6 linked regions of the Homo sapiens genome follow. The protein of the gene in region 5 purifies or fractionates together with the protein of the main gene of each other region. This does not show direct contact. Each region holds a gene or a part of one and is shown on either strand. Other genes may lie near its edges.

The links.
Region 1: the proteins of CELA2B (region 5) and MAN2B2 purify together in Homo sapiens (affinity purification with mass spectrometry; one large-scale study listed by BioGRID and IntAct). This does not show direct contact.
Region 2: the proteins of CELA2B (region 5) and COL4A2 purify together in Homo sapiens (affinity purification with mass spectrometry, with the first as the bait; one large-scale study listed by BioGRID). This does not show direct contact.
Region 3: the proteins of CELA2B (region 5) and DGCR2 purify together in Homo sapiens (affinity purification with mass spectrometry; one large-scale study listed by BioGRID and IntAct). This does not show direct contact.
Region 4: the proteins of CELA2B (region 5) and BCAS3 purify together in Homo sapiens (affinity purification with mass spectrometry; one large-scale study listed by BioGRID and IntAct). This does not show direct contact.
Region 6: the proteins of CELA2B (region 5) and PHAF1 purify together in Homo sapiens (affinity purification with mass spectrometry; 2 studies listed by BioGRID and IntAct, with this or other methods). This does not show direct contact.

The regions. Positions count from the first base shown.
Region 1 is NC_000004.12:6,606,189-6,610,619, reverse strand, and holds part of MAN2B2 (epididymis-specific alpha-mannosidase isoform 1 precursor), read right to left. Parts: intron 1,514-4,431; coding exon 1,322-1,513; intron 823-1,321; coding exon 570-822; intron 1-569.
Region 2 is NC_000013.11:110,484,653-110,489,754, reverse strand, and holds part of COL4A2 (collagen alpha-2(IV) chain preproprotein), read right to left. Parts: intron 4,851-5,102; coding exon 4,728-4,850; intron 4,101-4,727; coding exon 3,919-4,100; intron 311-3,918; coding exon 247-310; intron 45-246; coding exon 1-44. UniProt on the Homo sapiens protein: Type IV collagen is the major structural component of glomerular basement membranes (GBM), forming a 'chicken-wire' meshwork together with laminins, proteoglycans and entactin/nidogen.
Region 3 is NC_000022.11:19,118,625-19,124,228, forward strand, and holds the start of DGCR2 (integral membrane protein DGCR2/IDD isoform 1 precursor), read right to left. Parts: upstream 3,789-5,604; 5' UTR 3,583-3,788; coding exon 3,504-3,582; intron 1-3,503. UniProt on the Homo sapiens protein: Putative adhesion receptor, that could be involved in cell-cell or cell-matrix interactions required for normal cell differentiation and migration.
Region 4 is NC_000017.11:61,389,709-61,394,051, reverse strand, and holds the end of BCAS3 (BCAS3 microtubule associated cell migration factor), read right to left. Parts: intron 2,076-4,343; coding exon 1,927-2,075; 3' UTR 1,221-1,926; downstream 1-1,220. UniProt on the Homo sapiens protein: Plays a role in angiogenesis. Participates in the regulation of cell polarity and directional endothelial cell migration by mediating both the activation and recruitment of CDC42 and the reorganization of the actin cytoskeleton at the cell leading edge.
Region 5 is NC_000001.11:15,473,888-15,479,691, reverse strand, and holds the start of CELA2B (chymotrypsin-like elastase family member 2B preproprotein), read right to left. Parts: upstream 3,589-5,804; 5' UTR 3,567-3,588; coding exon 3,527-3,566; intron 3,236-3,526; coding exon 3,147-3,235; intron 1-3,146. UniProt on the Homo sapiens protein: Acts upon elastin.
Region 6 is NC_000016.10:67,143,831-67,148,932, reverse strand, and holds the end of PHAF1 (phagosome assembly factor 1), read right to left. Parts: intron 4,640-5,102; coding exon 4,557-4,639; intron 4,100-4,556; coding exon 4,056-4,099; intron 3,558-4,055; coding exon 3,514-3,557; intron 3,364-3,513; coding exon 3,305-3,363; intron 2,656-3,304; coding exon 2,583-2,655; intron 1,889-2,582; coding exon 1,802-1,888; 3' UTR 389-1,801; downstream 1-388. UniProt on the Homo sapiens protein: Plays a regulatory role in autophagic activity. In complex with BCAS3, associates with the autophagosome formation site during both non-selective and selective autophagy.

The sequences.
Region 1 (4,431 bases), on a different chromosome or scaffold from region 5:
ATGAAGGAGCCATTTTACAGGAGAGGAAACCGAGGCACAAGCCAAGGCACATACTATTCTTGTCTGTGGTAGCACCAGAATTCAGACACCAGTCTGACTCACAGCCTGCACGCTCAAGCCCTGAACGGGCAGATACACAGGCTTTAAAAGAATTCTCTCTGGAGGCCGGGCGCGGTGGCTCACACCTGTAATCCCAGCACTTTGGGAGGCTGAGGCGGGTGGATCATCTGAGGTCAGGCGTTCAAGACCAGCCTGGCCATCATTGTGAAACCCCATCTCTACTAAAAATATAAAAATTAGCTGGGCATGGTGGCAGGCGGCTGTAATCCCAGCTACTCGGGAGGCTGAGGCAGGAGAATCGCTTGAACCTGGGAGGCAGAGGTTGCAGTGAGCCAAGATCGCTCCATTGCGCCCCAGCCTGGGTGACAGAGTGAGACTCCATCTTAAAAAAAAGGAAAAAAACATTCTCACTGGAGGCCTCTACTGGCCTCTACTGCTGCAATTTGATGCTTAATGGGTCCAGGAAAGGCGCCATTGGGAGCGTGCCTTGTGGGCATTGCAGGACATACCCGGGCGATGCTGTTGTTCACATAGGAAACGTAGGGCCTCCGCTGCATCTGGTAGCCGTTGTTGTCTGAGTAGATGACCTGCTGGCTGTTTAGGTTGGTGCTGGTCCTCAGGACAGCCTCACGGTTCAGCTCCAGGGGGCCGGCTTGGTACTCCTGCTCTATCCGGTGGCAGAGCAGCTCCCCGTCATGGCCCTGCGGCACATGGGTGAGCCGGGAGCGGATTGCATACGTGTAATTCTGTGCTGTCATGTTCCTGGAGGAGAAGGGAGCATCAGTAAGTGAAGCTCCAGGAACCTTCTAGATGCTTCCTTTTTGCTTCCCTTCCTTCATGTGGGCAGGGTGGGCAGGGCAGGGTACGCCGAAAGGCAGGGAGCCTTCTTGGGCCATGTGGACAATAGCACCACCCAGGACCCCGAGCGGCTGGGAGCAGCCTGGTTCCCCGACACCGCAGGGCTGCCATGCCGGGCCTGCCTTACGTCTGCTCTGATCATGGAAGAACAGGTGCTCTGTGGGCCCCAGGGTCTGTGGGTCTCTCTCCCAGCTCTGAACTTAGCTCCCAACCAACGTGACACAGCACACGCAAACGCAGCCAGCATGCAGACACCAGAGCAATTCATTTCTTCATCAGACCACGTGTCAACCACGGCCCGGAAGCTGGGGTTCAGAGCAAAGACAGACCCTCATTCACTGAGCTGCCTGCACGCGTGCGCTGACTGTGTGCCGGGCTGTGGGGGTCACCCCAGGGGAAGCACCTGTAGAAGTACTGCCGGATCTCAGTCACAAGCTGTCCCGCCACAATCTCCATTTCCACAGCTTCCCACGCAGGCACCGCGGCCTTGCCCGGTGTGAACAGGTAGTTATCGGAAATGGGGCCCTGTTTCACATCCCCGTTGACGTGGTACTCCAGGAATTCCTGGGTCACGCGCACCGTTCGGTTACTCTGTCTGCAGAGGCAGGAGAGAGAAGATGTCATTCTCATCCTGCACAAGGTCTTACAGACACCGGCTGGCAAGCCTCTCTCTCCAGATGCCATCTGAGTGGCCTGCGTAGCACTCACGAGGCCATGTGACTCAGCTCATCTAGAAGCCCTGAGACCCCACCCACAGCCAGTGTGGCCTTAGACTCCATGCTGTCCCAGAATGGGTCACAAACGAGGAGACGGACAGAGCCTGCAGACAGGAACCGTGAGCCGTCAGCAGAGGGCACCCCCAAGAGATGGAACTGGCTCACCCAGGCTGTGGTCTGCAAGCGAAACCAGTGCAGGAACGGGCTTTTGTCATGCTGACTCTGAGCTGTCCAGCAGGACACCCATGTGTACAGACCCCATGTCATGGGCCAGAGCCTTCACTGACTTCACCTGGTTAAATTCTCCCAACCCCCAAAGGCAGGGACTGTTAACCCATCCCACTCCCGAGGCATCCGAGGCTGGAAGTTGTGACATCATGTACCCAAGATCACACATCTAGGAAGTGTGCAAGCCAGAACTCAAATTCAGCCCCGACTTTAAATTCTGTGCTCCCTCCCTTCTATTAGGATGTTTGTGTTAGGACAGAGGATGGGAGAAGAGCAGGAGGGGGTCAAGTATTTTAATTGTAAAATGCAATATTTGGCCTAACCAAGTGCACAAGTGATGTATTTGTATCTGAGTCTGGCCTGGCTGTGGGCGGACAATGAGGTGGATGGCCTCTGCACCCACTTCTCTGTGGGATTGTGGTGAGGGTGGGGAAGGAAAGGGAGGCAGGCTGTGGAGGGTTCTACTGAGTGCTGGTGGAGGAGGAGAAAGAAAAGAATTGAGGCCTCTGGCCCTGGACCCCTTCCCCGCACGATCCTTTTAAAAAGCTCCCCCAGGGGCCATCAAAAGAGTAAAAAGACAAGCCATGGAATGGGAGGAGGGATTTGCAAATCATAAATCTGACAAGGGACTTGTAGCTAGAATATATAAAGAACTCTTACAACTCAATAATAAAAGACAAGCCAATTTAAAAATAGGTAAAGGATCTAAAGACACATCTCACCACAGAAGATATGCTAGTGACCAGTAAGTACATGAAGAGATGCTCAACACCATTAGTTAGCAGGGAAATGCAAATCGAAACCATCATGAGATGCCACTTCTCGCCCACGAGAATGGCTATAATTGAAAAGACAGAAAATAACAAGTGTGGGCGAGGATGTGAAGAAATCAGAACCCTCATCTGCTGCTGGGAGGAACAGAAAATGGTGCAGCCGCTTTGGAAAACGGTCGGGCAGTTCCTCAAAGAGTTAAACATAGAGTTAGCTTGTGACTGAGTAATTCTACTCCTAGCTATGTACCCAGGAGAAACGAAAATGTATGTCCACACAAAAACTTGTACATGAATGTTCAGAGCAGCATTATTGATAGTGGCTAAAACGTGGAAACAACCCAAATGTCCATCAACTAAAGAATGGATAAACAAAATATGGTACATACATGCGATGGAATAGTATTCTGCCATGAAAAGGAACGAAGTACTGATACGTGCTACGATACTGATGAACCTTGAAAACATGCTAAGTGGGTTGTGGGTTGGGCATGGTGGCTCAAGCCTGTAATCCCAGCACTTTGGGAAGCTGAGGCAGGTGGATCACTTGAGCTCAGGAGTTTGAGACCAGCCTGGGCAACATGGTGAAACACCATCTCTGCAAAACACAAAAATTAGCTGGGTGTGGTGGTATGCACATGTAATCCCAGCTACTCAAGAGGCTGAGGTGGGAGGATCACTTGAGCCCCAGAGGAGGTTGAGGCTGCAGTGAGCCATGATTGTGCCACTGCACTCCAGCCTAGATTACAGAGTGAGACTCTCTCAATCAATCAATCAATCAATAAAAAGGGGGAAAAATATGTGAAGTGAAAGAAGTGAGTTGCAAAAGGACCACATATTGTATGAACAGGTAAATCCATATAGACAGAAATAGTCTAGGATTGCCAGGGCCCGTGGGGGAGTGATTGCTCAACAGCATGAAGTTTCTTTCTGGAGTAATGAAAACGTTCTAAAATTGATTGTGGTGATGGCTGCACAACTCTGTGAATGCACCAGAAACCACTGAATTGCCCACTTTAAATGGGTGAATTGTGTGTTATGTGAAGTGCATCTCAGTCAAGCTGTTACATAAGGAACAGAAGCGCTCCCTTCAACCCACACTGCCCTGGGGTTGGTGTCTGCACCCTTGGCTTCCCACCCCAGGCCTCTGCACAGGCTGTCTCCTTCCTATGGAGCAACCTCCCCTATGCCCTTCGAGGCCTGGGGCCTGGCCCCAGGTGTCGTCTCCCGATGGCCCCTACTCTGAATACCAACAGCTCCTCCTTTCTGCTCAGGTGACAGGCACTGGTTTTGCAAGGCTTACCCCTGGTGGGGTTTTGGGAGCCCAATAAGAACTCCTTTGTCCTCACTGGAGTTCAAAACAAGAGAGACAGACAGGGCCACAAACGGGACAGGACAGCCTGAGCTCCAGTGCTGGAAATGCCGGGTGGGACCCTGGCTTAGGCATGTGGGGTCCGTGGGCTGCCCTAAGGGGCATGTACAGAGGGGGCATGGGGCCTGAGTGAGGAACGGACAGGGCACATTCTGCCTCTCCTGGCCTAACCTGGCAGGCTTGGACCATGCTGGGGTTTCTCCCATTTCTGCAGCTCCTCTGCCCAACTCCCCCCTTGCCAGCCACCCATGCTGGCTGCTGTCACCCCTGCACCTGCCCCACTTTCCCTCAGGAGCCACTGGGGAAAGATGAGGACAGACCTGACTGGGGCCCCATTCCCAGAGAAGTCCTGGAGCTCTGTGGGCAGGGAGCTGCTGACAGTGACCTTGAGCTGAGCTCCCCTGATACCCACCTCAGTACAAATGCC
Region 2 (5,102 bases), on a different chromosome or scaffold from region 5:
CAGGCCTGGTCTTCCTGGTAAATTTATAGTGTCCCCGATGTCACCTGTTACATGCAAAAAAGACGGCTAAGAACAGGACTTTCCACTGGGACTTTGTGAGTTTTGCAACTTCTATTTTGTTATATTCCTAACAAGAATAATTTGTTTTAAAATACCTAACAGCACTTGCAGGTCTGAAATTGGCTCACATGCTCAGAGAGCTCTGAATTGTGGACTCCCTGTTTTCACTGGACGGGCAACACTCACCGAAATCACCAGTCGCGCCAATCTCGCCATACAGGCCTGCTCTCCCTGGGGCACCTTTGTCACCCTAAAGACAGACATGAACCATCTTAGAAGGCTGTTAGCGAAGTCAGTTGTAACTCTGAAGTTAGCTCACTTATTTAACTATCCAGTATGCTAACGACAATACTCAAGGTTTGTGATCTTGTCATTTTGTGGAAAACTCGTGTTTTTTAGTGTGTATCATAGGCGGTTTGCTTAGCTGTTCTTTTTGTTTATTTATTTATTTATTTCTTTGAGACAGGATCGCAGTCTGTCACCCTGGCTGGAGTGCAGAAGCACAATCATAGCTCAATGTTGCCTTGATTTCCTGGGCTCAAGTCATCCTTCCGTCTCAGCCTCCTGTGCAGCTGGGATTACAGGTGTGAGCCACTAAGCCTGGCTGCTAATAGTTTTTAAATTTTTAGTAGAGATGGGCTCTTGCTCTGTTGCCCAGGCTGGTCTTGAACTCCTGGGTTCAAGTGATTCTCTCTCCTCTGCTTCCCAAAGTGCTGGGATTACAGGCGTGAGCCACTGCACCTGGCCTTGCTGTTCTTATGGAACTGTGAAGTGATACAATGAAACAAGCTTGGCAACTGCATCATAATGAAGAGCATCAGTGGCCCAGGTCTCCATCACGACAGTGTGGTGATGTCAGCGGCGGCGGTGACTCTGACTACATCCTCGCTCCACCATGCTTTCCCGCGTGCACATGGTGGACCCCGTCTCAAGAGCGTATTCACGCCTCATGAAAACCCTGCCAGGCAGGCACCGTTACTTCCCAATGACAGGCAAAGGAACTGAAGCACAGAAAGGTTTTGCTTAAGGTCACTCAGCCAGCAAGTGGCAGAACCGGGATTTCAGTTTGGGCAGCCAGACTGCAGAGCTTGCTCTCTGCAGATTATAACACAGATATGGGGCTGTGCGCCTCCATCTGTGCACAGAGGGAGACTTCTCCAGAAAGACACAGGTGGCTGGTAAGGAAATTGAGAAGATGCCTGAGTTGCTCGGTGGCTTCCTGGAAGCCCTAGTTTTCCCCTCCAGAGTGGCTTCCTCCCCAGAGGGAGCATGAGAGTTCTGGTCTACCTGGGTGCCACTGGGACTTTAGTACTACAGCATCAATGTACAAGCATGGCCTAACATGAGTCGCTGCAGTATTAATATAGCTAGGCCGGGGGTGGTGGCTCAGGCCTAGAATCCCAGCACTTTGGGAGGCCGAGGTGGGTGGACTGCCTGAGGTCAGGAGTTCAAGACCAGCCTGGCCAACATGGTGAAACCCTGTCTCTACTAAAAATACAAAATTAGCTGGGCGTGGTGGCGTGCGCCTGTAATCCCAGCTACTTGGGAGGCTGTGGCAGGGGAATCGCTTGAACCAGGAGGCAGTGGTTGCAGTGAGCTAAGATCATGCCATTGCACTCCAGCCTGGGTGACAGAGTGAGACTCTGTCTCAAAAAACAAAACAAAACAAAACAAAAGCTCCTTTGTGGGAGGAAGGGGGAGGGTATCCACAGGCTGCACCTTTGTTTAGGTAATGCTCTATTTTTCTTTCTCAAAGCTTACTTTTCTGAAGCAAAACTTAAATACAGTAATGTCCACTCATCTTAAACGCACAGCTCAATGCATCTGAACTCGTGTGTCACTGAAAGACACAGAACACTGTCAGCACTCTATGACAACCCCACCTAAAGCAGCTGTGCTCCCGATACCCCATCTAACAGCCTTGTCAGTTCTTGAACTTCACATCGATGAAACTGAATCGTGTACTTTTCTGTTTCTGGTTTATTTTGTTCAACATAAAGTTTGGAAATGAAGTTAGGTTGTTGGATTTTACCAAGAATTCTCATTTATTGCTGTGTATGGAGATAAAATGCACAGATAATGCTGTGTCTGGTTAGAATATACCACGTTCATTTATTCTTTTCCCTGTTGATGGACATTTGGGCTGTTTCCTAGTTTCGAGCTGTTATGAATAAAGGTCCTTTGGATGTTGTAGGTGTCTTTGGCAGAAACAGGCATCTTTCTTTTTTCTTGTCTTTTTTTTGAGATGGAGTCTTGCTTTGTCACCCAAGCTGGAGTGCAACGGCGCAATCTCGGCTCACTGCAACCTCCGCCTCCTGGGTTCCAGCGATTCTTCCGCCTCGGCCTCCCCAGTAGCTGGGATTATGAGTGCGCAGCACCAAACCCGGTTAATTTTTTATATTTTTGGTAGAGACGGGGTTTCACCCTGTTGGCCAGGCTAGTCTCGATCTCCTGACCACAAGTGATCTGCCTGCCTTGGCCTCCCAAAGTGCTGGGATTATAGGCAAGAGCCACTGCACCTGGCTGGCATCTTTCTTTTTTAAAGTGACCTGAATAGCACACACAGACTGGCTAGAAGATACTCTCAGCTGCAGATTTTGGGAGTGAGGGGAGGAAGACCCCTGAAGAATTCTGTACACCAAGGTGGGCCAGACAGACACACAGGCAGGCCCTGGCCTGCTACTAAGGGTTCACACTGTCAGGCCTCTGAGCCCAAGCTAAGCAATCATATCCCCTGTGACCTGCACGTACACATCCAGATGGCCGGTTTCTGCCTTAACTGATGACATTCCACCACAAAAGAAGTGAAAATGGCCTGTTCCTGCCTTAACTGATGACATTATCTTGTGAAATTCCTTCTCCTGGCTCAGCCTGGCTCAAAAGCTCCCCTACTGAGCACCTTGTGACCCCCACTCCTGCCCGCCAGAGAACAACCCCCCTTTTTCCTTTACCTACCCAAATCCTATAAAACGGCCCCACCCCTATCTCCCTTCGCTGACTCTCTTTTCAGACTCAGCCTGCCTGCACCCAGGTGAAATTAACAGCTTGATTGCTCACACAAAGCCTGTTTGGTGGTCTTTTCACACGGACGCGACTGAAACACATCAAGGGGCCCAGACCTTCTGATCTGCTCCAAATGTGCCCATCCCCCTGGGAAGGCCAGCCGTGTGCTAGGGACTGTGAGAATACACTATCTTCATATGAACGAGGCTAGAAATGGAATTCTAGGAAACGGAATCTATGGGGAGCCACGCTGTGCTATGTTATACACACTGTCTATACAGCACTCAAGAAAACTGCAAGGTAGCTACTACCTTCATTCTGCAGCTGAGGGAGAAGGTGTGGAGAAGAGAGCCCTGCCCAGGGTCAGGGCTCACCATTGTTACCATCACAACAGCGTGTCTGGCCCATGTCAAGTGCTCAACAGACATCCGCTGAACAAAGGCTGAGTGAACGGTGGCCCGGATGGGAAGCCAGGCTGCCGGGCCCAGGTCTACGCTGTGATTCGGCCATGGGCTCTCAGGCCTGGTGTCACTGATGTGCTCAATTTTAGAGCTCTGATCCCTGAAAATTCAAGTTTTGTTCTCTCAAGGCCACCATGAAAAATGCAGACAACATGCTTCACCCAGCACAAGCCCACAGAAGGGCCACGGCAGCCGGTTGGACTCACATCACATCTGCATGGTGTCCAAGTGCAGCAGCTCCTTCCAGGGCTGTGTGGACCCCACCAAGCCTGAGGCTGCCCTGAACCTGCCACTGACACTCTCACCCTAGCAAATTCCAGACCAAAGCATGTCCATTCACAAGCAAAGGGGAGAGGAGCTCACAGAACAAGGGGAGTAAAAGACGCCCACTCACCCGGCTTCCTATGAATCCTGGGAATCCCGTAATTCCAGGGGGGCCAGCCACCCCAGGGAATCCTGGCAAACCGGGGATGCCGGGGACTCCGATGTCTCCCTTGACTCCTTTGATGTGGCCGGGCCTCCCAGGCAGCCCAGGGATTCCTGACAGCCCTGGGATGCCTGGCATTCCTTGGATACCTGCAGGAAGACCCTGGTGTGTAACACTCTGGTGAGGACGCAGCACCCGCCCTCCAGTTTTCAATTTTGCAGCCTGGATGCATTTTGCTGTCCTACGTGCTGTGAATCTTTTTTTTTTTTTTTTTTTTTTTTGAGACGGAGTCTCGCTCTGTCGCCCAGGCTGGAGTGCAGTGGCGCAATCTCGGCTCACTACAAGCTCTGCCTCCCCGGTTCACGCCATTCTCCTGCCTCAGCCTCCTAAGTAGTTGGGACTACAGGCGCCCACCACCATGCCGGCTAATTTTTTTGTATTTTTAGTAGAGACGGGGTTTCACCGTGTTAGCCAGGATGGTCTTGATCTCCTCACCTTGTGATCCACCCGCCTCGGCCTCCCAAAGTGCTGGGATTACAGGCGTGAGCCACCGCGCCCGGCCAGTGCTGCAAATCTTAAGATGGGAAACCGAGGTTACTCAGGCATCAGAGAACAACCCTGCGCCAGCTATGGACACACAGGGCGCCCAGAGATGAAAAGCACGAAGAAAGCCAGGTGGAGGGCACGGGCGTCTCTGGGGACGGAGAAGGGCACGAGCTGGTGCGGGCTGGGGCGGCAGGGACTAGGGGCCCCTGGCTGCAGGTCAGAAGCCTCACCTTTTGCGCCCAGGTATCCTTTCAGCCCCATAGGCCCTTCATCTCCTTTCTCTCCTTTAATGTCTTTCATTCCTGGCAGGATGACAGGAGGTGGTCCTGGGGGCCCAGGGTCCCCTCGGCTGCCTGGAAGGGAATAGAGTGCTGTCATTTTCTGGGGGCTCCAGACCACGCAGGAGAACACAGGTGAAGGCCTGGTCCCTGAGCCATAGGGCTGCACGTCTCCCCCAAGCAGGGAAGCCTTGGAGAGAGACCAAGGGCGCCGGAGAAGCCTCTCCTGTGTCCATCGGAGTAGTTGGAGTTGGGGGTGGCTCCAGGGTCCTGGGCCTGGGGCTGGTGTCACTGAGCACACAGCACCACAGTAGGGGGACGTGCCTG
Region 3 (5,604 bases), on a different chromosome or scaffold from region 5:
TCTAGTCCTCTACCTTACCAAGGGGCCTAGCTGAGCACAGGCCCTGTACAGGACCAACAACCAGCAGGAAGGGACCAGGGTGCACCAGCATTCAGAAGGCAATTTTTTCTCAGCTATGTATGGTGGGTTCAACCTGGATAGAGCTGTGGCTCATGATATAATTTTGTTTCACAATTAAAGCTAGAAAGAAAAACAGTTTTAGAATCAGCAGTCGATGCTGCCTTCTCTACACAGATGGAGAAAGGGCCAATGAGACAGTATCACAATCAGTGGTCCCCAAATCCCCCCACCATCTCGCTGTCAGTTACCTCAGCAGTAGTCTCCAACCGTTCTTCCTCATCACACCCCCAGTGATCATAACACACATCATCAGTGGTCACATGGCCAAACACAGAAGGGATTTGGCAGAGGGTGAGTGGTTCTGTCCCTCAGACTGGAGTATCCACATGGAAAAAGATTCTGCACCCTCACCTAGAGGACCCTGGGACCTAACAGGGGACAGAGGCAGTCTGTGGCTCCACCTGGGGTTAAGGAAGCTGTTCAGAGCATAATATGAGGTACTCCTGTGGCTGGGCTGGAGACACACAGTTGGAGTGCACAGACCCCAGTCACGGGTGCATGATGGGGGGAAGGCCAGACTCCTACGATGAAATCTCATCTCAGCCTTAGCTTCATGAGTGCTCTGGATTTCAGCTTCCCCATCTTTAAATGAGGCTAAAAACAGCATCTAGCAGGGACCTCTTGAGAGTTAACATATGTTAGTGCTTAGAACAGTGTCCGGCACATGACACATCTTAAATCAAGTTCAAATGTGCACTTAAAAAAAAATTGCTGGGCATGGTACCTCAGGCCTGTAATTCCAGCACTTTGGGAGGCCAAGGCAGGTGGCTCACCAGAGGTCAGGAGTTCCAGACCAGCCCGGCCAACATGGCAAAACCCCATCTCTACTAAAAATACAAAAATTAGCCGAGCGTGGAGGCGTATGCCTGTAATCCCAGCTACTCGGGAGGCTGAGGCAGGAGAATCGCTTGAACCAAGGAGGTGGAGGTTGCAGTGGGCCAAGATCACGCTACTGCACTCCAGCCTGAGCAACAGAGCAGGACTCTGTCTCAAAAAAAAAAAAAAAAAAAAAATTGGTGAAAGGTCAAGTACAGCAAGCACTTGCTGCCCCATAACTCCATGAAAGGCCTTCCACCCTGCCCTGTACCAGAGAGGAAGCCCAGGTGGCTTGGCATCATCTTCAGGGACCCCACCAGGCAGGAGTCAGAAAACACCCTCCTGAGAAGTGGGCTCTGACTGATACCTTCCTCATACTCAAGTATGCTTTTAAGGCCGGAATCCCCACAGAAAGAACGCAGACTAAGACCAGAGAAGCCCCAGCCTCTTGCAAGCACCAGCCAGGCAGATCCCTGCAGCACTCTCAGGAAGGACACATGGTGAATGTGTGAAGAGGCACACACGGGCATACAAGGAACACATCAGGCCCAGAGGCCTGCCCTCCCTGCCCAGCCAAAGCCAGGAAGCCAGCTGCAGCTCCCGGGTTCTGCAGGGCAACTCAAGACGCCTCCAGGGGTAGCTGCAATGTTCTCATCTGGAGAGTCATGGAATCGAAAGAATAAGTTTGCTCCCTCTACCAGATCCACCCCACCCATGCCCTACTCCGACCTCAGTGTGAGGTCTCCTGTGACGCCCTCACTGCTTCACAGGTACAAAAAGATGGCCACCTCCACCCACCTCTGGGACCCCACACTCCAGGGTATTCAACACACAGGAGTGTGACAAGTGACTTACACCTGGCCTCTGTTCCACATCAGGCACTCCTAAAAGGAGGGGCTTGTTCTTGTCACTTGGATTCCCTAGGGATGGGCAGGGGGCAAGCACCCACAGGCACTTTCTCAGTTGCTGCTGGCCAGTTGGCAGGCTATGTGAAAAGGCTGGCAAGGAAAAAGGAGTCGGGGACGTCAGTCACCTCTATCACCCAGGCAGGAGATGCTGGGCCTGGAACCAGAGGCACCCCAAAGAAGCCAGGCATAATATGGCCTCACCTGAGCCCGGTGACCTCATCTGCAAAACTGGGACTCAAGAATCAGAAAACGGTGACCTTCTACCTCTCTACACGTACATATATGTTTTCTAAAGAAGTTAATCACAAGAATCCACAAACCCATTGGTTCTGACCTCCAAGAGCCTATATGATACCCTCCTCCACAGGTAGCCCTTTTCCTGGCTTCTGTTCTTACCAAGGCCACCCCACAACTAGTCATCCCGCTGCCCAGAGAGCAGCCAAAAGCAGTGAGCAACTAGCTCTACATGGGGAGACCAGAGAAGCATCACTGAATCTGTCCAGGTTGAGCACCGGTCAGGGCCTTGGCCACCAGGCAGGCACTAGGGAGGAGGCAGACATTCCACATAGATGACACAAGCGCAGAGCCAAGAGGTGCGGTGTATCTGGGCTGGGAGCCTGGCTAGGGCACAGGAGAGGGCCACACACCCCGTGCTCCCACACCCAGGTCATCAGAGAAGATGGCCCTGGCACTTCTGCCTTCATGGGACCTTTCCTCCATTAAGAAATATTAAGAGTCATGCTTTTTCACTGTATTAGTATAAAGATGACTGTATTAATATACATACGAAAACATTTTATTTGACCTAAAAGTTCATTTTTTTTCTGCTGACTTTAAAAAAAAATAAAATAACATTCGAAGGCTACTAAAAGTACCGTGGGCAAGTGATACCAGGATTCCTGTGCCTGATGGATACATCGGCCCTGCATTTAGGGAGTTTGATTTTTTGGTGCAGTTCAAGGGGAGGTACACCGAAATAGGTAGAAAAGGGTCTCCTGGTTGCCACGGTTCTGATTCCCCACCACAGACTTAAGAACACACTAGCTCCGAGGGGAGTTCCAAAGCACGGACTCATTCATCACATACACGCAGCACGGCTAAGGGCCCCGCACAGTGGCGAGGTCTCTGCTCCCGGGACGCTCGCGCCGGCCACACAACGCTAGGCTGACTCCTGGTGCCTCCTCTAGGCCCGGTGGGACCTGAGGACTTCCTTAGCGCAACGTCTCACTGAATGACAGCCACAACCACCGCTGTCCAGGCGAGGAGTTTCCAGGACTGAGAGGCTGGCACTAGGCCACTGCTGGGAGGACGTCTGTGAAACCAGGTGCCCCTGAGAGCCACTGTCCCCAGCCCGACTCCGACGCTGGACTGGCGAGAGGGTGCGCCCGTGGCGTAGCTCCTGGCCGCCGCCGCTCCCGGGAAGGGCCCAGAGGCAACATCCTGGACAGCAGAGCTGCACGAAGTCCGAGGCGCCGCGAGCCCAGGTAAGCTCCAGCAGGCGTCCGCAGAGAGTGCCAGGCGGCCCGCGAGCCAGGCCCCGCCCGCCCCTGCCCCAGGCGCGGCCCCTGCAGGAGGGCGCCGCGGGTGAAAGGAGGTCCCGGGGCGACCCCGGCCCCGCTCGCCGCCCAGCCCCCACACCGCCCCCATCGCGCGGCGCACCTGGCCGCAGCGGCTCGGTGACAGTGAGCACGAGCAGGAAGAGCAGCAGGAAGGCGCCGCTGTCTGCCTTGGGCACCATTTATCCTCCGTTCATCGTCCCCGGGGCGGCTGGAAGGCCGGACCAGGCCGGACTGAGGGTCAGGGGACCGTGCCAAGCGGAGGGTCAGGCGGAGCTGAACCTGGGCGAGGCGCGGAGAGGCGGCGGGAAAGAGCTTCGGCTGGGCCGCGGGCTGGCGCACACTCTCGGCTGCAACCTCAGGCACCGACTCCAGCTGCGCGCAAGATGGCGGCCGTCCTGCTCGGCTCCGCGCCGCGCCGCCCCGCCCCGCCTCCCGCCCGCGACGCAGGCGCGGGCCAATGACCGTCAAGATGGGGGGCGGGGCCAGAGCCAAAGCCCTCCGAAGAGGGTGAGGCCTAAGGTCGCGACGGCGGAGGGCGGGGACCTAAGGGCGGGGACTGAGGGGCGGGCTCTAAGGGAAGGGCGGGACCATACGGAGTGAGGCGTGCCATTGGTTAAGCAGAGAGGCAGGGCCGGGGCCGGGGCCTGAGCGGCGGGGCCACCGAAGGGAGTAGGGTCTCTGGACGCCGGTTAGGGACGGCGGGCGCGGGACGGCAAGGATGGACATCGAAAGGCGCGGGGCATGGGGCGGGGCGCCGAGGGGTCGCGCGGGTGGGGAGCGGAGAGAACGAAGTGGGAACCTGGCTGGGACTCCAAGGGTCTTCACACCTGCAAGCTCAGGTCCCGTGAGCAGCCCAAAAGTGCGCCCCAAAGGGGTCTTTTTAAGGCCGAACCGCTGTGGAGGAGGGAGGGCCTGCCGGTTCTGAGGGTGGGGAAAGAGGAACAGGAATGGCCTAAGAGAGTGTCAGGCAAAGAGAGACCGGGAAGGCCAGGTCCTGGAGACTGCAGCGAAGCCGGCTCCCTGGAGGACCTGCCTACACAATGGCTAGGGGAAGGCCACATGTGCAGGAAAGAAAGCTAGGCAGAGAGGAGGCTCAGCGCCCCTGCGAACAGTGCTCCAAGTGCCACTTCTCCCGTCATCACCAACAGGGTGAACCTTGGAGGGCAGTGTCGGCGAAGAGTCCAACTCTGTAAAATATTTGAAGACATTTCTTCTGAGCCAATATGTGACCAATAGCCTGGGACACAGCCCCAGGAGATCCTGACAAGTGCCCAAGGGGGTAGGGCCACAGCTTGGTTTTATACATTTTAGGGAGACAAGACATCAATCAGCACATGTAAGATATACATTGGTTCAGTCGGAAAAGGCGGGACAACTTGAAAGTGGGGGGTGGAGGGGGGCTTCTAGGTCATGCGGATTGGCAGTTGGTTCAAAGAGTTTATCTAAAGACCTGGAATCAATAAAAGGGACTGTCTACATTAAGGGGTTGTGGAGACCAAGTTTCTTAGGCAAATGAAGCCTCCAGGTATCAGGCTTCACAGAGAAAAGACTGTTAATGTTTCTTATTAAAAAGTGCCAGACTCTGCCGGGTGTGGTGGCTCACGCCTGTCATCCCAGCACTTTGGGAGGCCAAGGCGGGCGGATCACCTGAGGTCAGGAGTTCAAGATCAGCCTGGCCAACATGGTGAAACCACATCTCTACTAAAAATACAAAAGTTACCCAGGCGTGGTGGCACACGCCTGTAATCCCAGCTACTCAGGAGGCTGATGGCAGGAGAATCGCTTGAACCGGGGAGGCAGAGGTTGCAGTGAGCCAAGATCATGCCACTGCACTCCAGCCTGGGCAACAGAGTAAGACTCTGTCTCAAAAAAAAAAAAAAAAAAAAGGAAAAAAAAAAGGAAAAATAAATAAAAGGTGCCAGACTCTAGTTAATTCTCTCAGGAGAAAAGACCTTGAAAGGGATAGGGATTCTCTACAGAATGTAGATTTTCCCCACAAAAAACAGCTTTGCAGAGCGACTTCAAAATATGTGAAAGAAACCTGTTTTGCAGTAAAATATGTGTTTCCTTCCGGGCCTGCTGTCATGCTGGTATCTTACTGCCACAGAGTCTGTTGTCAGTCTTCAAGTCTCTGTGTCGATGTTACACTGCTTAGCTGTGCCTGAAACCTGAAGGGAGGAGGGATAATGAGGCCTGACTCC
Region 4 (4,343 bases), on a different chromosome or scaffold from region 5:
AGGTCTCTGCCACATCCACGTGTCCTGGGGTGGTTTCAGAGGGGCTCATGCTTCCTAGGGCAGCTGAACCCATCCCCAGGAAGACAGGCCATGGGCAGCATGCACAGGTAGCCTGGTAGCACTCTCCTCCTTGTCCCTTTTTGATTGAAACATGGCTGTAGCTGGGGGTAGGGGCAGTGCCAGGCCCATCAATAATTCAGCAAGATGGGGAAAAGCTGCAGCTCCTCCAGCACCCCCTGCTGCTGGGGCCAGGCTAGTGTTCGCAAGCATGCCTCAGTCTGGCATGTGACTTCTCGCCCTGCAGGTGCCCTGGCAGGAGGGACTGGCTTATGCCACCCTGTGCAGGATCGTCTTCTCAGCTTACAGAGCCTAGTGTGATTCAACAACCCTCCATCTCTGCCCCCAACATGCCCAACTGATCTGGTGGAGGGAACTGAAGATGAAGGCCTCTCAGGCACCATGGATGGGATGGGTGTGTGTGAAGGGGGCAGGGTCCCCAGGAGCTGCCCCAGGTCTGGCTGGACAGTTGCACGGGAAGTCCTGTTTGTGAACTCAACGTTTCCACGGCTTTTCCATTAAACTTTACCCCAAATCACACCTGGCTCTGTGGGTTTCCTTCCATTCTCCAAGGCCTCCCTGGGGTCTCTGGGAAGTGTGGGCCAGGGAAGGGGGCAAAGGACTAGCATTCGTCTCCTTCCTGCTCAATGCACCATTTTTTCTCCCTGTTCCTGTCTCTGTTGCCACTTACTTTAGGTCCGGAAGTGGTGGTGGTGGGGCGGGGGGACAAAATCAGGAACGTGTCATCTGAGGGTTCCGGCCAGGTTTCATGAGATACCCACCTTCACCTGACCACCCTTCCATCTTCTGAGTTAAAAAGAGGCAATTACAACAAGGTGCCCCCCAGATGAGGCTTTGCCAGACTCTCCCCTTGACAGCAACCCACCAGCACATGGCAAGCCCTGATCCCCAGGGAGGAGGGTCCAACCCTGTGGCACCCCAAGAACTCATTGCCTCTGGTAACAGGCAAGATGCTTAGAGAATGGGCTTCTTAAATCAGGCCCCATCCAAATTCCAGGACAAAAGTTCTTCCCATTCCAATCCTCCACTGACTCCTTCTGCCCCCAAGTTGCACATGAAAGGGGGTGTTGGGATCCTGGGCACTCAGGCCATAGGACTCTGCTCAGCATTTGGAGAGGACCCTTACCCCAGCAACTCAGGGATGGACACCAACTGCAGCGTGATTTATTGGACAAGACGTGCACTTTTCAACAGGGCCTCAGTAACCACGGTTTCCTTCACTGATCAGTACAGGACCAGGGTAAAGGGGCTTAAAGATAAGAAAGACAAACTCTTCCCATGAACAGATGGGGAAAGAAAGGAGGAAGAAGAGGCATGTCCTCCCTTCCTCCTTCCCTAGTACTCTGGGCCTCCGTTCACCCCGTGCTGGAGTGGGGCTGACCAAGGGAAGCTGGGGGCAGTGTGTGTCACAGCCAGACATGAGCTGAGGCTGTGACTGTCCACTCAGGGTCAAAATGGCCAGGTGGACGATCAACTCTGTCCCCACTCAGGCCCCCAGATCTGGTCACTGTTCCAGGCTCCCCCCACCCGCCCCACCGTGGGTATGGTTAAAAAATACAAAAGCGGATCCAATGCAGGATGTCATATGCAAACATACACAGGGACCGAGCTTCTACAGTCTCTCCTGGCCACAGCCTCCACCGACAGGTGTGGCAGAGGGCAAGTGCGCTGAGGTGCTTGGAGAAGGGTCTCTTCTCCATCCAGGTAGGATGGGCGGCTGCTGTCACTAAGCTTGGGGAAGGTGGTTGATGAAGGAAGAGCAGAGACTGAAGGGTAGGACCAGAGCGGGGCTTCTCCCCTCCTCCAGCAGGGGAGGGGGCTGGCCAGTCAGAAGCAGGTTGCTGGTACCTACGGGAAGCCAGTCGGGAAGAGGCTGAGGGGCTGGCTCTCATTGGTGGGCAGCGGAGATCGGTAGCCATCAAAGTTTCTTGGTATGCTGCCGCTGGTGGAGCCTGAGCTGTTACTCAGAGTCTCGATGCTTCCCTCTCGCTGAAGTTCTGCAAGACACAGGAGAGGGCCAGGCCTGGTTAGAGTTGGGTCTGGGGAGTGGGGGCACCATCTGGGCCAGGCTGCCTGCCTTGAGGCACCATTCTGGGTTCACTTGTGTCCTTCCGCAGGGGGATCCCCGCCTGCTCCCTGGATGGGCAGGGGGCAGCTCAGGTCACAGGAAGGCTCAGCCAGGGGAGGGAAAGCCCCCTGGCTGGCAGACTCTGGTGTGAGAGCACCGTCTCCCTGCTGCGGGAAGCCCTTTAGGCCCGAAGCACGGCCACCCTGACGATGTGTGTGGACTACACAGCTCTTCATGAGCCCGTACCCACGCCTGCACACACTCATGCTCAGCCAGCATGCCCCCAACTCCACAGTGCCTTCTGTCCCGGCTCTACAGGGGAGGCAGGCGGGGAGAAGCTAGGACACGGGAGGGCTTGCAGCATCCCTGCCTGATCTGTCCCCACCTCTCTCCTGCCCTGCCTGTGCCTAGAGCTTCTGCCTGGCTTTGCCACTCACTCATTCACTCATGCTCACCCACACAGTCCATCTGCTGGCCAGGTCTTGGCTCATCTTTGGCACCTCCTGCCAAGTGTCCTGTTTCCCTGGGAGGGGATGCCTGGTTTGAGAGGGGCCTGCTCCAATGAAGAGAGGGTCCCTGTCTGCCTGAAGTGCCTCCTTTCTCCTTTCCTCTTAGGCCCCAAGTCTCCTGGAGGCCCCTCAGCATCAACCTGAAGGGCAGGCAGGGAGTCCCGCCCTCCTCCTCCTCTGCCTCCCTGGCCCTGCACATCCATGTTGCCACCTCAGATATGGCAGCTTGATCCATCTAATTCAGCTGTGGGCCGCTCAATTGTCCTACCATCTCTTGACCCAAGTCAGGTCCTGGGGTAGGTGGGTTGGGAATGGAATTCCCTGCTTGCTGAGTGCAAGGAAGAACCAATTACTTCTTGGCTTTTTGAAGGTGGTCAGTTCCGATTCCCTTTCAGTCTCCCCCGGGGGCTCTGACATATGGGCACACACACACCGGGCAGTCTCTGGAGCCTGCCCCAAGCCAAGATATGTAGACCTGCAACCTTTCCTTCTCCAAGGGATGCCTGCCTGTGACTGAAGGAGTCTGGCCTGTCCACCCAGGAGTGCAGGACCTCAAAGCAGTCACTTGAAACAGCAAGATGTGCAAAAACGTTGCACTCGTCTGGTCTGGCTTGAGACCTTGGTCTTCATCCTGCAACCGCTCCCAGGCCCCCTGCCACCACACGCGCAGTACAGCCGGCTCTGGTTAGGGAATGAAGGGGTCATGGCCTTCACTCCTGGGCTGGCCAACACCAGCCAGCCAGCAACGAACCACTGACCCCGACTCCCTGCAGGCCTGCAGCAGCCACAGAGTGGAGTGGGGAGGAGGCGGGCACCTGGGCCTGGGGAGGGGAGGGGCCCTTGGGATCCATCAGCCGAGTCTGTCGCCGGGGTCTCGGTGGGACAGTTCACTGGGACACCAGGGCTTCTTGGCAAATTGGGGAAAGTAGGGGGATGGGACTGTGGACAGGGACCGAGGGCCTGACTATGGTCCCTGACCTCCAGGGGACATTGGCTGCCTGGGAAAGTCAAGAGCTATCTGGATATGGATAGAAAACAAGGCAGATAGGATCTTTTTCTCCTGCTCCTCCTTCAGTATCACCCTAATCTGGGGGGACAGGCCATCGTGCCATGAGATGGAGAGGGTGGTAAAGCCAAGAGTAGACCCTGGGGATTTTACATGGAAGCTCCAGACTCCAAGAGACCCCTCTGTTGCCTTATTTCCCCAAAAGCAAGCCGAGGAGTTGTGGGCGATCTGTCCCACCGCCCTCATGCGCGGCCGGCCCGGCACTAGGGGGCGCTGACAGCAGGGCCAGGCGGGCGGGAGAAGAGCACCGGCAGGCGCAAGAAAAGCAGGGGCTTCCTTAGGATCGGGCCGCCAGGCCTAAGGAAGAAAGCCCCCGAGGAAGGAGCAGGCAGGGCCACCAGGATGGGGAAGGCTGGCCCCTTTTTACAGCTCAGGGGCAGCTTTAACGGCCTTGATGCAAAATGCCTCCACATCCACACTGCCAAGGAAGCCAGGAAACGGGAGCCCGGGCCCAGGCATGGCACCCCCACCGTCCCTTGGCATAGGCCCCCAGCAAATACCCCAGCAGCCTCGGTGGTCCCACCAATGAGTCTTCGTGGATGCACCCCAGCCCATCACACCACAGTGCAGGGAAAGCCACCCAGGGGCTTACAAGATGAATGTCCTGTTCTTGGGGGCCAGG
Region 5 (5,804 bases):
CTCATGTACATATGCACACACAGACACACTTGTCTCTTTCCCCTTACTCTGCTTTACTCTTCATAGTATCTTTCGTTTTCCGGCGTGTTATTAGTTTACCTATTCAGTTGTTTATTGTCTCTTCCACTTTATTTATTTTATTTTTTGAGATGGAGTCTCCCTCTGTCGCCCAGGCTGGAGTGCAGTGGCACGATATTGGCTCATTGCAACCTCTGCCTCCCAGGTTCAAGCCATTCTCCTGCCTCAGCCTCCCCACTAGCTGGGATTACAGGTGCCTGCCACCATGCCCTGCTGATTTTTTTTACTTTTAATAGAGACGGGGTTTCACCATGTTGGCCAGGCTGGTCTCCAACTCCTGACCTCAGGTGATCCACCTGCCTCAGCCTCCCAAAGTGTTGGGATTACATGCGTGAGCCACTGTGCCTGGCCACGTCCTTGTTTTTAATTAGCCACTGGGCATTTCTCGTTTTTGTGACATTAAGGGGCCTTAGATGAACTGGCTTTTAAAAAGATGCTTAAAATTGGACCAAGTGAAAAAAGACACTGAAAAGTATCTACTCCCCCACCCCAATTTAAAAATGTGCTGAAACCATCCTACAGATGGGAAATTTCGTCCACGTAATACGTATTATTTGTGGCCAGCAAAGTGTAGCTAAAAGAACAAGCACTGAACCAGATTTGAATCCTCATTCCCCCCCGGGCTAACCCAGTGCCTTTGGGTAATTCTGTAACCTTTCCAAGTCCCAGTTACCTTCTCTGGAAATGGGGAACATAAGCCACGGTGCAGGGCTCTCAGGGTGATTAATAACTGTAATTACAATAGCTGGCTGGGCAGGATGGCTCACACCTGTAAGCTCAGCACTTTGGAAGGCCGAGGCAGGTGGATCACCTGAGGTCAGGAGTTTGAGACAAGCCTGGCCAACATGGTGAAACCCCGTCTCTACTAAAATACAAAAAAAATTTGCTGGTGTGGTGGCACACATCTCTAATTCTAGGTACTCAGGAGGCTGAGGCAGGAGAATTGCTTGAACCTGAAAGGCTGAGGTTGCAGTTAGCTGAGACTGCGCCACTGCACTCCAGCCTGGGTGACAGAGTAAGACTCTGCCTCCAAAAAAAAAAAAAAAAATGCATTAAAATATTATTCCTCTTGGCTGGGTGTGGTGGTTCACACCTATAATCCCAGCACTTTGGGAGGCCGAGGCAGGTGGATTACCTGAGGTCGGGAGTTAGAGACCAGCCTGACCAACATGGAGAAACCCTGTCTCTACTAAAAATACAAAATTAGCCGGGCATGGTGGTGCGTGCCTGTAATCCCAGCTACTACAGAGGCTGAGGCAGGAGAATCACTTGAACCTGGGAGGCAGAAGTTGTGGTGAGCTGAGATTGTACCATTGCACTCCAGCCTGGGCAACAAGAGCAAAACTCTGTCTAACCAAAAAACAAAAACAAACAAACAAACAAACTATATATCCCAATATATATATATATATGCCTCAGCCTCCCAAGTAGCTGGTATTACAGGTGCCCGCAATCATGCCTGGCTAATTTTTGTATTTTTAGTAGAGGCAGAGTTTCACCATGTCCAGGCTGGTCTTGAACTGCTGACCTCAAGTGATTCACCCACCTTGGCCTCCCAAAGTGCTGGGATTACAGGCCTGAGCCACCACGCCTGGCCTATCATGGACAGTCTCTTAATCAAAGAGCAGATGAATGAACGCTGGCCTCTCTAAACACAGTGACTGCTGCATAGGTCACTCTGAATGCTCAAGGCTAGTGGGCTGCTAGTTGCTCCTTCTACTTAAATTAGAAACTCATCCTGGTTCAGCTGGGTTTGCTCCTAAAGCAGTTTATATCAATTATGTTTGCAATAGTGAAATTTGATTAAATATGTAACCAATGAAATATGAGTTCAGAAAGAGAGTTGTGAAACAAAGTTAAATGCTTGGAAGAGACTGAATACCATGATTCCTAAAAAATTGCTCTTGAATTAGTGTCTTTGAGGAAACAGAAAGATTGGGGGGAAAAGTCGTAAAAGTCGGGATGGGCTCGTAACTCAGATTGCTTTATGAATATCTCAAAGTTATTGCTCTGCTTTAAAGAAATGGACTTGTAGATGAGATATTATGGGGCATGGTTTATATGAAAAAGACAGTTAAGAACTCAAAAAATTGTTTACATAGTCTAAAATAAAATGTTTACAGCATATATGATTTAAAATAATTTCTTTATAACCAACTTTTCATTTAGTCAGTCCCAATTATATCAGATAAATGAGATTTTACTATATTTGTTTGCGTCAATGTAAACTTTACACATTTCTTTTGAAATTCCCACCGTTAACACGTCTTAGTAATTTGTGCCTGTGCCCCACTCGGCAGTTTAGTCTTAATATCACTATTATATCAACTTAAGAAACATTTATTTTCCTTGGTAACATTGATTTGCCTGTAGTTAAAGATGAATCTGCATGAATAGCACTGATTGGTTCCTTAAAGCAAGGAATATTTGCATAGGTAGTCTTGAATGGTTCATAGGATAATGGTACATTTGAAAGAAAGCCTCTGATTGGTTAACAGAGTAAGACTATAGTTGTAAATTTGTTTATGGGCAGTGGGGAGGGGACAGCTCTTTACTGCAGCTGGAGGAGGCACCTCTCCCTTCACTCCCAAGGTTGGCCAAGGCCACAGAAATGTATCTTTTTCTTTTTTTTGAGATGGAGTCTCTCTTTGTTATTCAGGCCGGAGTGTAGTGGTGCGATCTCAGCTCACTACAACTTCTGCCTCTCAGGTTCAAGTCTTTCTCCTGCCTCAGCCTCCCGAGATGCTGGGATTACAGGCGTGTGCCACTGTGCTTGGCTAATTTTTTATTATTAGTAGAGACGGGGTTTCACCATGTTGGCCAGGCTGGGCTCAAACTTCTGACTTCAGGTAATCTGCCCACCACGACCTTCCAAAGTGCTGGGATAACAGGCATGAGCCACTGTGCCCAGCTGGAAATGTATCTTGTTGGTGAAGTTTCCTGTGCTGCTCTCTGAATCCCATCAATCCTAACTTTGCCAGCACAATAGACGCCATGGTGGAAGGGCAAAGGGGGGATGTAAAGGGAGTGGGGCAGGGACGGGGAGAAGTACAGTGTGGTCAACTCACCTGCCAGGGCCAGCTGTTGGGCCTCGCTTCTTCACCTCCAAGCATCCTAGACATATCAGGCGCGTAAGTGGAGACCCCACAACTGAGGGCTGTGAAAAGAGAAAGGGTCTTGAGTCCAGGAAGCAGCGACCCACACAATGTAAACTATACATGCTGCATTCTGAACCCCCAAATAGAAAACCCTTGTTCTAGAAGGATCCCAAGAGGTCATAAAATCCTTCTGTTTGCTCCAATTCTTTGAAACTCCATTTCGGTTTTCTTATGATTATAGGTCTGAATGCAGTAGGGGTTGGGTGGGGGCGAGAGGGGAGGACAGGAAGATCCCATTTCCAGCCCCACCAGGGGATGGGAAACCAGTGCCTCTGGGTGACAGGACTTACCTCCAGCCACCAAAGTGGACAGCAGCAGGGTCCTAATCATGGTGTGTCCGTGGGAGTTCTGTAAGCGTGGCCCTGGATAAGGCCCTGGTTTTATGAGCAAACTTATCAGTGAGAGATACACTAGGAGCACGCAAGATGGGGATTTTCTCAAAGCCCAGTGGAAAAAAGAGCTTGTGTCCAAATTTTTTTTTTCCATTTTCTCCCAACTGTCACCCTAGAAATACTTTGAGAAGATGCCAAGGGTAGATACTGGAATATGAGTTCCATCTGTTTTAAAGAGATTATGTTGTGTATTAGGGAAGGAAGAAAAATACTAATTGTTGGTCCTTGGAGTTGTGTTTTCTTTTCTTTTCTTTTTTTTTTTTTTTTTTTCCCCTCCTTGGGTAAGACTGAGGAGAGGAGTTGTGTTTTCTTTCTTTTTTTTTCTTTTTTCCTTCTGAGATGGAGTCTTGCTCTGTCACCCAGGCTGGAGTGCAGTGGTGCTATCTTGGCTCACTGCAACCTCTGTCTCCTGGGTTACAAGTGATTCCCCTGCCTCAGCCTCCCTAGTAGCTGGGATTACAGGTGTGTGTCACCATTCCTGGCTAATTTTTGTATTTTTTAGTAGAGACAGGGTTTCGCCATGTTGGCCAGGCTGGTCTCAATCTCCTGACCTTAAATGATCTGCTCGCCTCGGCCTCCCAAAGTGCTGGGATTACAGGCTGAGCCACTGCGCCCGGCCAGGAGTTGTGTTTTCAATGAAAAGATTAAGGTGGCATGCTGAACCCACAGCGTTCTAAGGCAGTATTTCTCAATGGGGCTGGTTCAGCCCATCAGGAGACCTTTTGACAACATCTGGAGACATTTTTGGTTGTCATGGCTGGGGTTGATGTAAATTGGCATCCAGTGGGCAGGGAGCAGAGACGCTGCTAAACACCCGACAATGCACTGGGCAATAGGACTTGCCCTGCCCCAAATGTCAATGGTGCTGAGGCTGAGAAGCCTGTTCTAGGTCATACCAGGGGTTGCAGTGTGACCTTGGCTGAGTCATGTAAGTCTCTAGACCCATCTGTGAAACAGGGAGAGAAGCCCATGCCCAGTATTGTTTCACAACATTGTGGTAAGGATTTGTATAATGCGGGGAAGGTGCACATGTAGCAGAAGGCAAGGCCGACATGCACAATTAGGATCTGGCCGCTCTAATGATGGGGGGAAGCAGAATGCTGGCAGAGGAGGGCTTCATCTGGTGGGTGAAAATGCACTTTATGGCCGGACGTGGTGGCTCACTCCTATAATCCTAGAACTTTGGGAGGCTGATGCGGGCGGACCACCTGAGGCCAGGAGTTCAAGACCAGCCTGGCCAACATGGTGAAACCCCGTCTCTACTAAAAATACGAAAATTAGTCGGGTGTGGTGCTGCATGCCTGTAGTCCCAGCTACTCAGGAGGCTGAGGCAGGATAACCTCTCGAACCTTGGAGGTGGAGGTTGCAGTGAGCTGAGATTGCACCACTGCACTCTAGTCTGGGCAACAGAGCAAGACTCCGTCTGAAAAAAAAAAAAAAAAAAAAAAAAAAAAGGACCAGCCTGGACAACATGGTGAGACCACCTGTCACTACAAAATTTCTTTTAAAAAGTTAGCCAGGTGCGGTGGCACACGTATGTGGCTCCAGCTACTCTGGAGGCTAGGCCGAGGCAGAGGGTCACTTGAGCCTGGGTGGCAATGGTTGCGGTAAGCTGCAATCGATTCTCCTGCCTCAGCCTCCCGAGCAGCTGGGACTACAGGCGCCGGCCACCACGCCTGGCTTATTTTTGTATTTTATTAGAGACGGGGTTTCACCATCTTGGCCAGGCTGGTCTCAAACTCCTGACCTCGTGTTGGCCCGCCTCGGCCTCCCAAAGTGCTGGGATTACAGGCATGAACCACCGCGCCCAGCCGAGTTCAAGTCTTTGATCCATCAATTTTGAGTGTGGTGGTCTGGACAAGCCACTTATCTTCTGGGCCTTAGTTTCCTAGATAACCATCCAGGCCTGGATTGCAGGATTGTTGTATGGGTAAGAAAATGGGTGGGAAAGAATTCTGTAATCTCCCTAGGATGGTGCAAAGGTGAGAAAGATTGGGTGGGGGGCAGAATCCCATGGGACTGGATGTCAGAAGACGTGGACTCCAGTCCCAACTCCATCCCATACTACCTGTAAGAGTTTGGACTCATTTATGGTCTGTATCAGTCACTACAGTAACCAACTATTTCTTAAGTCTCATATTTTATCTTAAAAGTTCATGTGAATTTGGCGTTCTGC
Region 6 (5,102 bases), on a different chromosome or scaffold from region 5:
CCCCTAGGCTGACGCGGACGTATGCAGAGGCTCTCAAGGCCAGGCCCCACAGGGAGGTGGAGGGGCTCCGGCCGCCACAGCCTGAATTCATGAACCTGGCAGGCACTTTGCCATAGCTCATCTGAAAACAGATATTATGCTTCCCACAACCTCTCCTGGGCCCAGGTGTGGCTGAGCACCAGGGATGGAGCCACACATAAGGGACAAATGAGTGCACGGTCCTACCTAGTCTTTCCTCACCTCCTGAACTCACACAACAATGCCAGTCTCCCACTGGAGGCTGTATCCCCTCAGAGGAGCCAAGGAATGTCTTCCCCTGAGATGCCACCACTATTAATTTCCCCATATGCTTCAACCACCCCCTTGCTCAAAAAACCAATACCCACACTTACCTTAATACAAACATCCCAGCAACAGCACATGGCAGGCCATTGCTGAGGGCACAGGTGCTTTATTGGAGAGGGGATGTGGGCAGGGGATAAGGAAGGTTCCCCCATTCCAGGAGGATGGGAACAGTCCTGGCTGCCCCTGACAGTGGGGATATGCAAGGGGCTCTGGCCAGGCCACAGTCCAAATGGGAAGACACCAGTCAGTCACAAAAGTCGGGAGCGCCACACAAACCTGGCTATAAGGCCCAGGAACCATATAGGAGCCTGAGACAGGTCCCCTGCACATTCATCATTAAACTATACAGGATGAGGCTGTACATGAGTTAATTACAAAAGAGTCATATTTACAAAAATCTGTACACACATTTGAAAAACTCACAAAATTGTCATCTATGTATCACAAGTTGCTAGACCAAAATATTAAAAATGGGATAAAATTATACATTTTTCTTCTCAGTTCTTTTCAAAAGGATTAATATTTTTAAAGCACATATATGCTACTTTCCATTAGCAAGACCCATGAAGGGACTGAGCAGCCCAGCCTTCCTTGAGCCCCCAGAGGCTTTGAGCCATGAAATGGCCCAGCCAGGGGCCAGTGCCCAGGGTTGGGGCAGAGAGCCAGCCCACAGTGCAGAACAGAATGCTGAAACACAACAAAAGTAGGAAGATGTCTTTGGCTAAAACTTTGGCATTAAATAAAAGAGGCAAACAGGATGGAAACATGCAGCCCTGCCAGCCAGGATGGGGCAGAGCAGGGGCACAGGCAATCTTGAAAGCTGACTCCAACAGGGGTGAGAACCAGGCCTGGGCATGTACCTGGATGGTAGAAAGCTGTGTTTCAACCAGTTTGGTGTGCCCAGGCAGGGAGCGCGTGCAAGAAAGGAACAGGGAAGGGCAGGTGGGCCACCCTGGCCACAGCCAGCTCATCAAGTAACTAAAGTGGATGTAGTGCAAATGTCGCAACCAAGTACTATGGACACGCTACCTGCTTGCCTTAAGGGTCATGTGGCAATGTGGAGCCAAAGGCAGGACCTTGTCCTTATCCTGGGTGCCTGTGTCCTCAGTCACAGAAAGAGCCCCAAGTCTTCCCAATGTGCATGGGACAAGGGTTGACCTCTCCTGCCTCCTTGTTAGTTGAGAGCTCCTGGGTCCAGGAATCAAGGCTCAAACTTTGTGCTTCTCTTTGCAGTCTGTGTCCCCTGCTGGCACCAGCAGGCCAAAGATGGACAGAAGAATATCTGGGCCACTCAGCCCATGGCAGAGCACCCAGCCTGAGCCCAACCTCAGAACATCACAACAGCCCTTCAGCACTGGCCAGGTGTCCAAGAAAACCCACAGGGTGGTACAGAGGCCCACTGAGCAGGATGTGATGCACAGTTCCACGGGACAGAGGGGCATGGGTGGTGGTGTCCCTAGGGGAGTTCCGCTGTTCTCAGGTGGCTACCAGGCCTGGGGGGGCCATACAGGGTCACCGAGGCAATGTGGTTGTTCTGCATGACCTGGTGTGAGAAGAGGACAGTGGGTCAAGGGGGAGAGGTAAAGGGATGTAGGCAGATCCTGTGCATGAGGGCTGGAGGTTGTGTGACATACCTGCACCTAATGGCTGGGTTTCCCGACTCCTCAACCTCCCCTGGTTCATGCTAAAGGCCCCCCTCTGCCTGAGATCTGCCTGTTTCTCAATGGTTACACACAGCCTTTACCATGGCCACGTGTCCAGTCCTTCTGGAACTGTTAAGTGTCTGCTGGAGATACTGCATCCACAGGGAAAACAAGGGCAGCTTGCTGTTCTCCCAAGTCAGCAGGGCCTCCAGAGCCACTCACTCCCCTACAATGCATTTGTTCACATGCCACTGGAGGGCCCCCAACACCCTCTGCTGGGCCCCACTTGCCCTGTGGTTCCCTTCCCTGCTATAATCATGTTGTCAGATAGAAACTTGGGATCCGTTACCTCCCATCTTGTTGGACACAGACCACTGCTTCGGCCTCTGTGACCCCAGATTTCTCAACATCATTTCTGAACCTTCATTGTTAAGTGTGGGGAGGCCAGGTATGCAGCAGACACGGTTGCTGAAGAAGGATGAATCTGCCCACTATGGCAGTGATGCCCTCCCCAATTTCCCTCCATCATTCACCTGGCCCTGCCATGACCAGCAACCCCCCAGGCAGTTTATTTCTAGGGCTTCCACAGCTTACCTCAAAGATCATTCGCTGAAGACCAAAGCAGAATGTGGAACCAAATGGGTTGGTGTTGTTTGGGGAGGAAGACCTGAGGCCAAAGAATTCAGAATTAGAGAGGCAGACAGAGGCCACGGCCTTAAAGCAAGGGATCCAGTCTTTTCTGGGGTATGGGATACTGGCCAGTAGTCTCTCATGGCTGTGAGTGTCTGTCTGTTTCCCACACAGGCCTGCAAGATCCTAGGGGTAGGGATGGTCTCACTCAACTCAGAATTATACATACAGAGCCCAACAGGACAAAAAAGTTACTGTGGAACTGGACTAGGGTGGCGAGGAGTCAAGAGGGCCCTCTTGAGTGAGAGAATCTCAGGCAGCATGGCAACCAGGAACGGGGCTGTGGACTTCAGCAGGCAGCAGCTCAAAGCTCAAAGGGAAAAAGAGCCCAGGCCAGCCAGCCAAGCCCTCCTTCCTTATTGAATAACTGAGGGTGAGAAGGCCCCCATACCTAGAGGTAGGCTTGGGAGAGGGGAGCTACCCCTGGGGACATTCTCTCTATCAAAGATGAACACACAGAACAGTTGACTCAGTCCTAATGTGCAGAGTGGGGCAGGAAGTATGCTTGTGGCAATATCAGAAACTTCTGTAATTTTTAAGCAACATCCACTGTGCCAGGCTTCCCTGGGCTTTCTGGGCTCTGAGGAGTCAGGTGGGGTGGCCGGGGACATCAAACTCCCACTCACCTGTGCAGGACAACAGGCTTCTCCACAGGGTGGCCCAGGAGCTCCTGGATGTTGTCCCACTGCAAGAGGGATAGAGGGGAGCAGGGGTTAGTAGGGACATGAACATGTCTGTGACCAATGGCTGGCCTAGAGGACACAGCCCCATACTGCCTGCAGGCTCATGTCCACCTCATTCTCAGGCTATGCCAGGTAGGAAGATAGGTGCTCACCTTGCTGTAGGTCGTGCATGTTTCTGTCTGACCATCTGCGTTTTCTGAAAAGAGAAGACAGTGGGGCAGATTTGTAGCTGGCCCAGCCTACCTGTGGCCCCAGCCCTAGGTAGGAACCAGACCTGGTGTCCCTTTGCACTGGGGTTGGAGTACATGGGGAGGATTAACAGGCTGTTTTGGAGTTCCAGGGTGGAAGAGGATGGAGGGGTGAAGGGAGGTCAGTCAGGTGTGAGCAACAACAATTGGCAGTGGGTGGCAGGCAACAAGGATGGGCTGGGGCCCCCTGGATGATCATCTGTAGATAAGAAACTCTCCCCTCCAGAGGCCGGCAATCCCACAGTCATAGGAAGAGGCCTCAAGGGCCTCTAGGAGACTCAGACCAAGAACACTGCAGCCCCCAGAACAATGAGCCCACCCCAGAGGAACTGAGGCCATGGGCAGAAGCTCCACACATCCAACCACTGCTTCGATCTTTCTCCCTTTTCATAGTGGAAAACAGACTCTAAAACCCCTCCCTTACCCTGAGAGCTTTCACTACTCACCTTTCTTTATGGCTAGTGGGATCTTGAACTCACAGCGATGATAACTAGAGAGAAGGCAAATGGGTAAAGGCTGGGCCTCCTAGAAGGCCTGGCCACTCCCATATTCCAACCCCACACCCCAGGAGAAACAGAACCAAACACACCTGCCCAAAGCCCTGGCTCTGAGTGCCTGACAGTGTTCACTGGGGGAGGCCAGATTTAGGCACGGAAGTCGAACAGAAAAGATCTTGGCCCTGGGTTCTGGAGAGCCTATTACCTTGGATAAGACATCAAGCTTTCTGAACTTATTTCCCTATTTGTAAAATGGGTTCAAACAGAGAGATGTAAGGCATTGGACCCTGTGCCAGGAACACAGCAAGCACTCAGGAAATTCACTTCCCATGAAACAGCAAGAATTCAGGTGTAGATAAATTAGTGAACACCCAAAGCCAAAAGCTCTTTCCTGGGGTTTTCAGCCCAAAACTCACTTCACAGAGGGGAGGTACAGACAGGTGTACTCACATGTTGAAATTATAATGCCCAGGGTAATTGGTGTGTAGAACAAACTTCTTCACTTTGTGTGTATTCGCATCAAAGAGGATGTCCTGGGATAGAAAACAAGGGTACTCAAGGAGGGAATGTTACTGAGGCAGGGCAGAGGCCTTTCCAAAGGCATGTCCAACTTGGGACATCCAGTGCACTCCACAGCAAGAATGCCTGCAGGCATCACCTTTCTTCCAGACAACAGTCCAGGGGACAGGCCAAGCAGCTTTTAGACATTTTCTTTCTTCTTTTTTGAGATGGAGTCTCACTCTGTCATGGAGGCTGGAGTGCAGTGGCACTGTGTCAGCTCACTGTAACCTCTGTCTCCTGGGTTCAAGCAATTCTCCTGCCTCAGCCTCCCGAGTAGCTGGGATTACAGGCGCCCACCACCACGCCTGGCTGTTTTTTTTTTAATTTATTTTTATTTTTAGTAGAGACGGGGTTTCACCATGTTGGCCAGCCTGGTCTCAAACTCCTGACCTCAGGTGATCCGCCCACCTCGGCCTCCCAAAGTGCTGGCATTAC